Homo sapiens: one gene and its partners. The protein of the gene in region 3 purifies or fractionates together with the protein of the main gene of each other region. This does not show direct contact. Each region holds a gene or a part of one and is shown on either strand. Other genes may lie near its edges. The genes, in order: ARMC9, SAMHD1 and HSF5.

Region 1 (3,647 bases), on a different chromosome or scaffold from region 3:
GAACATCCTGCTTCTGACTTCCAAAATTCTAAAAATTATAAAAGATTTCCAGTTGCTTATGAAAATCCCAGAAGGACAGAGAACATGTACAGTTTTCAAATACAGCAACCATCCTGGGCCAGCTGTGTGCCTGTGGGGTCACAGGCATTGGGTCCCCAGTGTAGCCTCCCCGAGCCCAGGGCCAGCAGTGCTGAATGAGTACCTCATGGTTTTCATGGCCAAGAAGATCCGAAAGGACTTTGAGCACGAGGCCTGCCACCTTGGCACACATGTTCTTCCCTATGGGAAACAAATCAAAGCTAAACATGACATGTCTAAACCCAGAAGCACAATTTTAGGTCAGGTAGACTTGGAGACAAATCTTGGCTCCTCTGCTCATGAGCTGTATGACCTCGGGTGAGCTGTATGACCTCGGGTGAGTCATGTAACCAATCTGGGCCTCAGTTTCCTCTTCTTTACTACAGGGATTACTATTCATACCTACCTCAAAAGGTGATGCAAAATTAAGTAGACTAATGTATGTAAAGGACTCAGTGTAGCATAGAACCTCGGTGCTCAGTAAACCATCCCAAGTGGTGGCTATTACTCCGGTCAGAGCACAGAGCGAGTCATTACAGTGAAAGCACAATACATTATAGAGCAACGTTCTCCCTCCCACGCACGGACACCACCATCAGGAAGACCATATAGGCATTTTAGTAGTTATAAACATCATCATAAAAATCACTGCAAATATGGTGATGATGATGAAGAAAAGCTAATTCTAATCTGATAAACATATTAGAAGTTAGGACTTTTGGCTGGGTGCGGTGCTTTACGCCTGTAATCCCAGCACTTTGGGAGGGCGAAGTGGGTGGATCACTTGAAGTTAGGAGTTCAAGATCAGCCTTGCCAACATGGTAAAACCCCCTCCCTACTAAAAATACAAAAATTCGCCAGGTGTGGTGGTGGGCACCTGTAATCCCAGCTACTCGGGAGGCTGAGGCAGGAGAATCGCTTGAACCCGGGAGGCAGAGGTTGCACCACTGAGCCAAGATCATGCCACTGCCTCTAGCCTGGGCAATGGAGCGTGACTTCATCTCAAAAAAAAAAAAAAAAGGCTAGGACTTTTTGCATGCTATTTTTTTAAATGACTGAAATAACAGTCATTTACTCAGTCAACAACACACAGTTACATGGTTCAGTCTACAAAGTATATAGAGGGGAAGATGCTCCAACAAGTCCTCCTGAGCCAGCTGTTTACCCAGGGAGCCTTTCTCTCCTAACACTGGATGCTCAGGCTGGGGAAAGCCACAGCCTGGAGGTGGCACCTCTTCTAAAGAAGCTTCTTTCATCCCAGGTAACAATTTAAATGAGATAGTACCTGTACCTGGAAAAGCTCAAATCACTACCTTCAGCGATCAAGTATATAAATGACTGATCAAGTATATAAATGACTTGTGCCCACAGGAGAACCTCCACCTCCAGGGCTGGGGCAGGGAAAAGAGTGTGATTCAGGGCAGGAAGTGTGGTTTAGTGTCACTGCTACTGCGGCCAGCTTAATCCTATAGTATCTTGGGAACACACTTCTTTGTCTTCAGAAAAGGGGATCATATTCTTAATTTCCTACCTCTGAATAATGCAATAAAGAAAAAGGTAAATGAACTTAGTCTCCTCTTAATGCAGGCACTACATATATACAAGACATTTTTTCCAGGGCAAGAATGGATTTTGCCTTCAGGGATTCAACAGCTTGATACCTAGTTGGAAATGCTTTCTACTCCTTTTTCTGTTTTTAGTTTTCTATGAGACTAAAAGCAAACCATATCAGGCTCACTAGAAACCCAGCTTCAAGAGTCAAGATCTCTTCCCCTTCTTGCACTAGAATGAGGGTCGGGGCTGAGACCTGTGCTGCGGAGGCAGAGGTTCATGAGCAAAGCCACCGAGTACTCCAGCGTGTAGTCAGACAGGCAGTCAGGGTCCTTCAGAACATCAACCAGCCAGAAGATGAGGCCGTCTTGAATCATCGCTGTCTGCAGCGGGCGCCTGGGAAGAAAGAGCCTACGGTAAATACAAACTGCCAAGAAACTTTTCATATAAGAGGAAACAGTAGGCTGGAAGCAGTGGCTCATGCCTGTAATCCCAGCACTTTGGGAGGCCAAGGCGGACGGATCACCTGAGGTCAGGAGTTGGAGACAAGCCTGGCCAACATGGTGAAACCCCGTCTCTACTAAAAATACAAAAATTAGCCAGGCGTGGTGACGGCGCCTGTAATCCCAGCTACTTGGGAGGCTGAGGCACGAGAATTGCTTGAACCCGGGAGGCAGAGGTTGCAGTGAGCCGAGATCGTACCACTGCACTCCAGCCTGGGCGATGGAGCAAGACTCTGTCTCAAAAAAAAAAAAAAGAAGAAACAGTAATGTGAATGCATATCAGAAAAGACAAACTTACAGAAGACATAGACTCTGAGGAATATTTTTGTTAAACCCATACAATTGAAATAACAAAAATTCTTTACATTTCAGGGATATTTATTAAGGGTTTAAATAAAGATAAGGTGGTAAGGAGGCCTCCTACTTTGAAAGTTTCCTTTTCAATATTTAAAATTAGCAGAGCATTGCTTCAAATATCTAATAAATATTTATTTGTAGCTTTTGGTTTACTTAACCCAGGAAACAGGACCATAGAAATACTTCTTTGACAAATAGGTTTTTTGTTTTTTTTTCCTGAGACGGAGTTTTGCTCTTATTGCCCAGGCTGGAGTGCAATGGCACGATCTCGGCTCACCGCAACCTCCGCCTCCTGGGTTCAAGTGATTCTCTTGCCTCAGCCTCCCAAGTAGCTGGGATTACAGGCATGCGCCACCACACCCAGCTAATTTTGTATTTTTAGTAGAGCTAGGGTTTCTTCATGTTGGCCAGGCTGGTCTCGAACTCCCAACCTCAGCTGATCTGCCTGCCTCAACCTTCCAAAGTGCTGGGATTACAGGCGTGAGCCACCGTGCCCAGCTGACAAATAGATTTTTACCTAAACGCTCTATAATCCAGCTCTAGGCACTCTGAGCTGTATAAAAATAAAGAAAACAAGGAGGAGCAAAAGCCTAGCTTAACATCACTTTGATTCACATTTCTATAGAGTAAGGGTAGTTTAATGACCTGGTTAATGCAAATTATAAGGAATGATTTTCCACCCAAAGTCCAGGTGTAGAATCTTACAAAATCCAATACCCCATCAAAATGTGTGATGGTGAATGTCATCAGGTTAGCTTTAAGAATTGCTGAGACTAAGTGTGGTATCATTATGAGATGCCATCTGGATTAGTAGAAAACTGACATGCCACAGAGAAGCCAGCTCTGCACATCTCCGGATGCGCAGGTTATGGTGAAACCACCACTCAGGACAGAACAGCAGAACCAGTTATCCGTTCATCCTGTTCTTAAACACTACACTGACCCAATCAGGGTGGCTTATTAGAATACAGTGAAGACTGCGCTCTCTTGGTAACTAGCTACCTTCTTCATTTATTGCAGAGACTCTGGAAAACTGCAAAAAGGTTAAGCACATTTACAGAACAAAAAAGCTTAAATTAACACTTAGAGGAAAAGATAAACAGGCAGTAAACATTTGCATTACCAGGAGGAAGTATTTTTTTCACCATATCTTGTATC
Region 2 (3,647 bases), on a different chromosome or scaffold from region 3:
CAGTCGCCGGCTAATTTTTTGTATTTTTAGTAGAGACGGGGTTTCACAGTATTAGCCAGGATAGTCTTGATCTCCTGACCTCGTGATCCGCCCACCTCGGCCTCCCAAAAGTGCTGGGATTACAGGCATGAGCCACCGCGCCCAGCCTATCCATGGATTTTTCTATCTGTGGGGTCTGTGGGGGTCCTGGAACTAGTTCCCCACAGACACCAAGGGACAATTCTACTCTTATTCCCACGGGTGTCACTCTAGTTGGAGATGACACACATTCAGGTAGATCATACAGTGCATGGTAATTCTTGAATATGCTCAATGATTCCCTCCCCACTGTACAGAGAAAAAAATCTCTTAGCCAATTATCCAAGGTTCTCAATAATCTAGTCCACTCTTCCCATTTAACCTCTCCACACTTAACAGTAAGAACTTTCTGGCTGGGCATGGTGGCTCACACCTGTAATCCCAGCACTTTGGGGGGCCGAGGTGGGCGGATCACGAGGTCAGGAGATAGAGACCATCCTGGCCAACATAATGAAACCCCATCTCTACTAAAATACAAAAATTTAGCCAGGCATTGTGGCACATGCCTGTAATCCCAGCTACTCAGGAGGCTGAGGCAGGGGAATCGCTTGAACCTGGGAGGCAGAGGTTGCAGTGAGCCAAGATCGTGCCACTGCACTCTAACCTGGGTGACAAAGCAAGACTCCATCTCAAAAAAATGAATGAATTAATTAATTAAAAAAAAAAAGAATTTTCTACCCTGACAGGTCTCCTCATGGTCCCCTAAACAGTCTCAGCTCATTCCAGCTTCATGCCTTTGTGCTCCTCCCACTGCCAAATATACCCTGCATTCTCCCTGCTACTCATCCAAACACAACCCTGCCTTCTAGATCTAGCAGATCCTGCCCCTTCACCAGGCTTCTCCCAGAGATCTCCCAACTCTCTGAATCCTCAGAGATCTTACCTGGATCATGCCTTGTGGCACTTGATAAAGCACCGACATCCTGAGCTACGCTTTCATGTCTCACCCTATCCTTTGTTCCCTTTAGCACCTGACACACAGGGAGGTGTGAGGGAGAGTTCTAGACTAGGCAGTAAAGCACTGTTGCCCTGCATGCCAATCATATTCATTCATTCATTCATTCAATAAATGCCAACTGGCCACATTCTCTGTGCAGACACCTACCATGTGTAGGTCAGTAAGAGACAATTTTAACAACCTTCTCTACAGGGTTGGCAACTGTGGCTTGGCTCCTCTTCCCTCTACTCACATTCTAGATAATTTAAATAGCTAACTAATATACTGAAGTAACGAGGTTTAGAAACATGAAGTCTATTATCAATTTTATGTTAAACAAGTTAACTACTCAGCTTTGGTAACCTCTGAAAGATGGAGACACTATGAATAACCTTCCAGGGCCACTGGTGAACAACATTAGAAAGCATTATTTACATGTTCACATTTTTATTATTAGGACAATAATGCTAAACAGTATCCATTCCCAACTCCTGTAGGAAGAAATCACTGGCTGACACAGATTCAGACATTTTAAAAGGAAAGAAAGTGAAAGACCTTATTTTCAAAACCATAACCAAATGACTATAACTTAAATGGGAACTTTTCAGCAGATAGACTTACTTTTGGTTTTTACTTAAAAATAAAAAATTGTGCAAAGTTTGTGAGTAACAGGCCACCTACCTGCGGCTTGGTGAAATTTCTGTCTGCACACCACTGAACAAAATATTGTCTTGCGGCATACAAACTCTTTCTGTCCACCTTCTTACAATATACTCGAATCAGCTGCTCTGCAAATTTCTCTGGCAGAAGTTGTGAAACCTTTTTAAAATGAAGAGATTTCACTATCACCTTGAAGTCACACATTGGAGATATCAGCTGGTCCCTAGGCTCCTAACTATTCCTTTTTTTTTGAGACAAGATCTCCCTGTCACCCAGGCTGGAGTGCAGTGGCACAATCACAGCTCACTGAAGCCTTGACCTCCCAGGCACAAGTGATCCTCCCACCTCAGCCTCCTAAGTAGTTGGAACTACAGGCATGAGCTACCATGCCTAAGTTTTTTATTTTTTGTAGAGATGGGGTCTCGCTTTGTTGGCCAGGCTGATCTTAAGCTCTTCGTCTCAAGTGATCGTCCTGCTTCAGCCTCCCAAAACACTGGGATTACAGGTATGAGCTACTGTGCCAGGCCCACTTTAATTGTAAAGATATGCCTTAAAACCTAATTTGCATATAAAATGCTAATTTACTATAAAGATTTGCTACATGCCACTATAGTATATTTGTTTTGCCTAAGTAGTTACCTGGTTTTTAGTAATCCTGATTGCTCTGTTGGGGGCAGTCTTACAATAGAAGCTAACATGATCAATTGGATTCTTTTCTTGCATTCCATAATCCATGTTGATAACCTAAATAAAAGCAATTCACAAGTAATCATATAGCAAGCAGGAGAACTGAACTCAGGGCTGTAGGAGCATAACAAGAAATGGAACAGAGGCCGGGCGCAGTAGCTCATGCCTATAATCCCAGCACTTTGGGAGGCCAAGGTGGGTGAATCACGAGGTCAGGAGTTCGAGACCAGCCTGGCCAACATAGTGAAACCCCACCTCTACTAAAAGTACAAAAATTAGCTGGGCGTGGTGGCATGCGCCTGTAACCCCAGTTACTCGGGAGACTGAGGCAGGAGAATTGTTTGAACCTGGGAGATGGAGGTTGCAGTGAGCCGAGATCGCACCACTGCACTCCAGCCTGGCGACAGAGTGAGACTCTGACTCAAAAAAAAAAAAAAAAAAAAAGAAAGAAAGAAATGGAACAGAGCCTTCTGGGGATTTGGAAATAAGAATGTTGATGTGACTCATGGTGGAATAAAAATAACTGGTTCGTGACCACTCTTAGGGATTTGGTATTGAAATCTGGGAAGAATGGGAAATGCACTTGTGTGTTTGATCTAAGTGTGGTGTAAACTCAATCCCTGCTATGTGACAGACACAGATAGACACTAGAGGTACAACAAGGACACTTTAAAATAAAATCCCAGGCCGGACACAGTGGCTCACTTGAGACCAGGAGTTCGAGACCACCCTGGTCAACATGGTGAAACCCTGTCTCTACCAAAAATACTAAAAAAAAAAAAAAAAAAAAATTAGCCAGACGTGGTGTTGTGCACCTGTGGTTCAAGCTACTCGGGAGGCTGAGGCACAAGAATTGGTTGAACCTGGCAGGCGGAGGTTGCAGTGAGTTGAGATTGCGCCACTGCACTCCAGCCTAGGCAACAGAGCAAGACTCTGCCTCCAAAAATAAATAAGTAAAGAAAATCCTAGCCCCCACAAACCAGGCAGCCCTAGATTGAAATTCAACAAATAATTATAAAAGTATTCAACCACAGTTGAAAAGCAAAGGGTGCTTTGAAATGTTCTAACAGGTTACCTGATGTAGCCTAGGGTGCCCGGAGAATGACCGGAAACATTTTCCTGGGAAAGTGACTTTACTAAGTGAGCAAGAAACAAACAGGCTTAGGTGGGAAGAAAAAGAATTGCAGGCAGAGGAAACAGCTCAGAGGCAGAGAGGACTGAAACTGTCTCCTGGATTTAGCAACTCTGAAGTCACCGGTGATTCTGGAGAGAGTACAGTGATGGC
Region 3 (4,442 bases):
CAGATCACTTGAGCCCAGGAGTTCCAGACCAGCCTGGGCAACAGAGTGAAACCCTGTATCCACCAAAAATACAAAAAATTAGCTGGGTGTGGTGGCCACGCCTGTAGTCCCAGCTACTCGGGAGGCTGAGGTGGGAGGATCCCTTGAGCCCGGGAGGTGGAGGTTGCAGTGAGCCAAGATCTTGCCACTGCACTCCAGCCTGGGGGACAGAGTGAAACCCTATCTCAAAAAAAAAAAAAAAAAATCAAGTCTATAAAATAATTTGGCCATGTGAAGTGGCTCACACCTGTAATCCCAGCACATTGGGAGGCCAAGATGGGCGGATCACCTGAGGTCAGGAGTTCAAAACCAGCCTGGCCAACATGGTGAAACCCCATCTCTACTAACAATACAAAAATTAGCGAGGTGTGGTGGCAGGCACCTGTAAAATCCTAGCTACTCTGGAGGCTGAGGCAGAAGAATCACTTGAACCCGGGAGGCAGAGGTTGCAGTGAGCGGAGATCTTGCCATTGCACGCCAGCCTGGGCAACACAGTGAGACTTAATCTCAAAAAGTAAAATAGGCAGGGCGCAGTGGCTCAGGCCTGTAATCCCAGCACTTTGGGAGGCCAAGGCTGGCGGATCACCTGAGGTCAGGAGTTCGAGACCAGCCTGGCCAACCTGGTGAAACCTCGTCTCTACTAAAAAATATAAAAATTAGCCGGGCATGGTGGCACGCGCCTGTATTCCCAGCTACTCAGGAGGCTAAGGAATGAGAATTGCTTGAACCCGAGAGGCGGAGGTTGTGGTGAGCCGAGATCGCGCCATTGCACTCCAGCCTGGGTGACAAGAGCGAAACTCCGTCTCAAAAAAATAAACAAATAATAAAAAATAAATAATCCACTATCACAGAGGGTTTCTTAACTTTTACTAAATACAGATGTATACCAAAAAGTTTTTTCAATACTGAAAGATTGTAGCCAATAGTGAAAACTCCAAAGGCTGTAAATGTGAGCTTTCTAAAATTCTTTTTTAACTAAAACTTGACAGCTGTAAAGAAAACCATCTTTGCCTTATGTTTGTCTAATCATACCCCTTTAAGGAAGCATCAAGCTCTAATTTGCTTCAATGAAAGAAATGTGTAGCCAATTCATTCTACATAGGAACTATATCTTGTAAGCCACGATGTATCGTTGTATTTTTGCTCTTAAGGTATATAAACAACGTCTACCATTCTACACATTAACCAGAACCTTAAATCTGATGATTGTCGTAGCACTTCTAAGATTTCTTAGATGTGCCAATAGGTGGAAGGTGGCAGCCCTCTTCAAGGACAAATTTCCACTGCAGGCACCTTTTCCAAAACTTTCCCTTGCCTGCTATTGTAATGTTCTAAGTTCTCTCTTTTTTTTTTTTTTTTTTTTTTTGAGACCGAGTCTCGCTCTGTTGCTCAGACTGGAGTGCAGTGGCACTATCTCGGCTTACTGCAACCTCTGCCTCCTGGGTTCAAGCGATTCTCCTGCCTCAGTCTCCTAAGTAGCTGGGATTACAGGCGTGCACCACCATGCCTGGCTAATTTTTGTATTTTTAGTAGAGACGAGGTTTCACCCTGTTGGTTAGGCCGGTCTCAAACTCCTAACCTCGTGATGCACCCGCCTCGGCCTCCCAAAGTGCTGGGATTACAGGCGTGAGCCACCACGCCCAACCGTAATGTTCTAAATTCTCTTGACTACGATTTTGTTCCATCCCGCCTTAACCCGTAGGGTGACTCCACTCTGCTTCCCACGGGAGCAAAGGAGCCCCTTTTGTTTCTTCCAGACCCAATGTTTCAACGAAGGACTACTGAGTCCACATGTTTACAGTGGACAGTGTGGGTCTCAGGAAGGTAAACGGAGGCTTACAACCAGGTAAACTCCTGGGGTTCAAACCGGGGACGAGTAGAAGGGAGCCTAAGAGGCGGAGGTCCCTTTTGCTGCCAGTGGGCTCAGAAGGGGCCGAATGCTTACGGACCCTCCAGGGGAGGGCCGGTGGCCACCGTGCTGGTGCCGCTGAGAACGGCGGCGGTGGCGGGACCGCCAGTCTCGGGAAGCACAGCGGCCAATGGGTCCCCGGCGCCTTTCCGACGCCCATAGCGTGAGGACGTGCGAAAATGCGCCCTCCAGCGGCGGTTGCTCCCCGCCGCCCATGTGCCCACTGTGGGCGAGGGCACGGGCAGTCCGGACTCACCGTGCGGCTCGGGCCGGGGCCCCGCGGGCGGCGGCGGCTGCTGGTGCTGCAGTGGCGCGGTGGCGGCGGAGGCCGAGGTGATGAGCAGCCGCTGGAAGCGGTTGGGCGGGCGGCAGGGCACCTCCAGGCCGGCCGCCAGCTTGGCCTTGTTGGCGCTGGTGAGGCGCTTGAGGTGCACGAGCAGCTGTGGCTGGTCGCGGCGGAAGTGCGGGTTGTGGAAGTGATGGAGCGGCCCATTGCCTGCCGGTTTGCCGCCCCCCGGCCCGCCCAGCACCACCTTGCGGAAGCCGTAGAGGTTGAGCTGGCGGATGAAGCTGGTGAAGCTGGTGGTTTTGAAGAGCTCGGGCTCGGCCCCGGCCCCCGCAGTCCCGCCACCGCCCCCCGGCCCGGGCGGGCTGAGCAGCTCGGCCTCGAAGAGCGGCTGATCGATAAGCAGCCCCTCGCCGCGGCCGTCCCAGCGGATGGAGCGGTAGCGCGGGCTGTTCACCAGGCGCCACAGCTTGGCGGGGAAGTTGTTGGGGTTGATGGGGGTGGAGAGCAGCGCCTCCATCGCCCCGCCGGGCCGGGGCCTCGCCCCCCGAGCCTAGCTCTCCCACACCGTTCTCGATCCCTCCCCGGCCTTCGCCTCGCCCTGCCCGCTCCTGCCGGCGCCCATCCGCCGCGTACCAGGGACCGTTGGCGCACGAGGCCCCGCGGCGCCTCCCAGCGCGGCCAATGGGGCCTCGAGTTCCCGCCACGCGGCGTGGGCACCTCCCCCTCGGCGGCCGCGTGCCCCAGCTCGGCCCGCCGGACGCCTGCGGGACCCGGGCAGGAGCCCCTTCCCCAGGCGTTCCCAGACTTCAGGCCGGGAAGGCTGTCTGCCGGGGTGTTCTAAGTCCTGACAAGAGAGAAGCCCAGTTATCCACCGTGGAATACCAAGAGGCGTGTGTTTCGGCCCAGCCAACTAGTGGAGACTTGGAATGCAGAGAAAGTGTGCGTTAGGCAGCAGAGTTGGTCGTTCTGGGGACCAAAGGGTCTGGTCTGTAATCTTTGCTAACAGTGGAACTGCTTACCTCTCAAACAAAAATGATGCTACTGGAGGTATAATATCTTGAGTAAACGAACTCACCTTTTAGATAGTAGCCCTTTGTATCTTTTAAGATACACTCTTTTAAGTCAGTATTTGTTCAAGACAATTTACTCAAGGTTAGATGAAAACTGAGGTCCCTAGGAGGAGGGAATCACAAGAATCTAAGTACTATCTTGTGTGCCTGCCCAACTAGCTGGTGGCATTTTAGACATTAAAGAGAAATAAAGATGGGACAGAATTCTACGGTATCCATAAGAATCGATCCCTAGCCAATCAATAAATAAGAATGTAACAAGAGCTGTGCTGATTCAAAAAGAGAGGTTCATTTGAAAACGGAAATTGGCCGGGCGCAGTGGCTCATGTCTGTAATCCTAACACTTCGGGAGGCCGAGCTGGGTGGACTGCTTGAACCCAGGAGTTCGAGACCAGCCTGGCCAACATGGTCAAACCCTGTCTCTACTAAAAATACAAAAATTAGCCAGCGTGGTAGCATACCTGTAGTCCCAACTGTTCAGGAGGCTGAGGCAGGAGAATCGCTTGAACCCAGAAGGCGGAGGTTGCAGTGAGCCGAGATCGCACCACTGCACTCCAGCCTGGGGAACAGAGGGAGACTCCATCTCAAAATAAATAAATTGGAAATTGCTGGGAGAAAGGGGTACAATGTTCTACTCTTCTCATGGTCAAAGAATAAGTGAATATTAAGTTTTTTTAGAAATGAAAATAAAACGACCCAACAAAGCAGCACTAATATAGAGATTTTATTTAAACTGTATTGAATTTTTACAGCACATTGCATGTTTGTCACAACGCAACTGCACAGTTTGGATTTTTGGCCACATCATGTCACTTACACCCACAACAGCTCTGAAAGGAGTATTTGATGAACACATCTGAGCCAAGAGCCCAGAGTCTCTCTCCAAGGCCATGCAGTTTGTTCACTGATGGGACAGTCCCTCAAAACAGCCACGCTAAGTAGACAGATACAGTCTCCCCAAATGTTACCAATCTTACTCCCCTTGAAAACAGGCAGAGTGAAGTGCAATGAAAGACAAGTTAATTAAAAAGCCACTCACAACTGGCAGTAAATTTTAATGATTGATAAAATGCTTAAAATAATTTTATGTATCAGAAACAAGGAACAGCTTGTTACTTTTTCAATGATCTCAGGA

Evidence for each region.
Region 1: the proteins of HSF5 (region 3) and ARMC9 purify together in Homo sapiens (co-immunoprecipitation; one large-scale study listed by IntAct). This does not show direct contact.
Region 2: the proteins of HSF5 (region 3) and SAMHD1 purify together in Homo sapiens (affinity purification with mass spectrometry; one study listed by BioGRID and IntAct). This does not show direct contact.

What each region holds. Positions count from the first base shown.
Region 1 is NC_000002.12:231,275,014-231,278,660, reverse strand, and holds part of ARMC9 (lisH domain-containing protein ARMC9), read right to left. Parts: intron 2,026-3,647; coding exon 1,886-2,025; intron 280-1,885; coding exon 203-279; intron 1-202. UniProt on the Homo sapiens protein: Involved in ciliogenesis. It is required for appropriate acetylation and polyglutamylation of ciliary microtubules, and regulation of cilium length. Acts as a positive regulator of hedgehog (Hh)signaling.
Region 2 is NC_000020.11:36,896,126-36,899,772, forward strand, and holds part of SAMHD1 (deoxynucleoside triphosphate triphosphohydrolase SAMHD1), read right to left. Parts: intron 2,420-3,647; coding exon 2,315-2,419; intron 1,835-2,314; coding exon 1,697-1,834; intron 1-1,696.
Region 3 is NC_000017.11:58,485,521-58,489,962, forward strand, and holds the start of HSF5 (heat shock factor protein 5), read right to left. Parts: upstream 2,889-4,442; 5' UTR 2,755-2,888; coding exon 2,205-2,754; intron 1-2,204. UniProt on the Homo sapiens protein: DNA-binding transcription factor that is essential for male fertility, spermatogenesis and meiotic prophase progression in spermatocytes under non-stress conditions.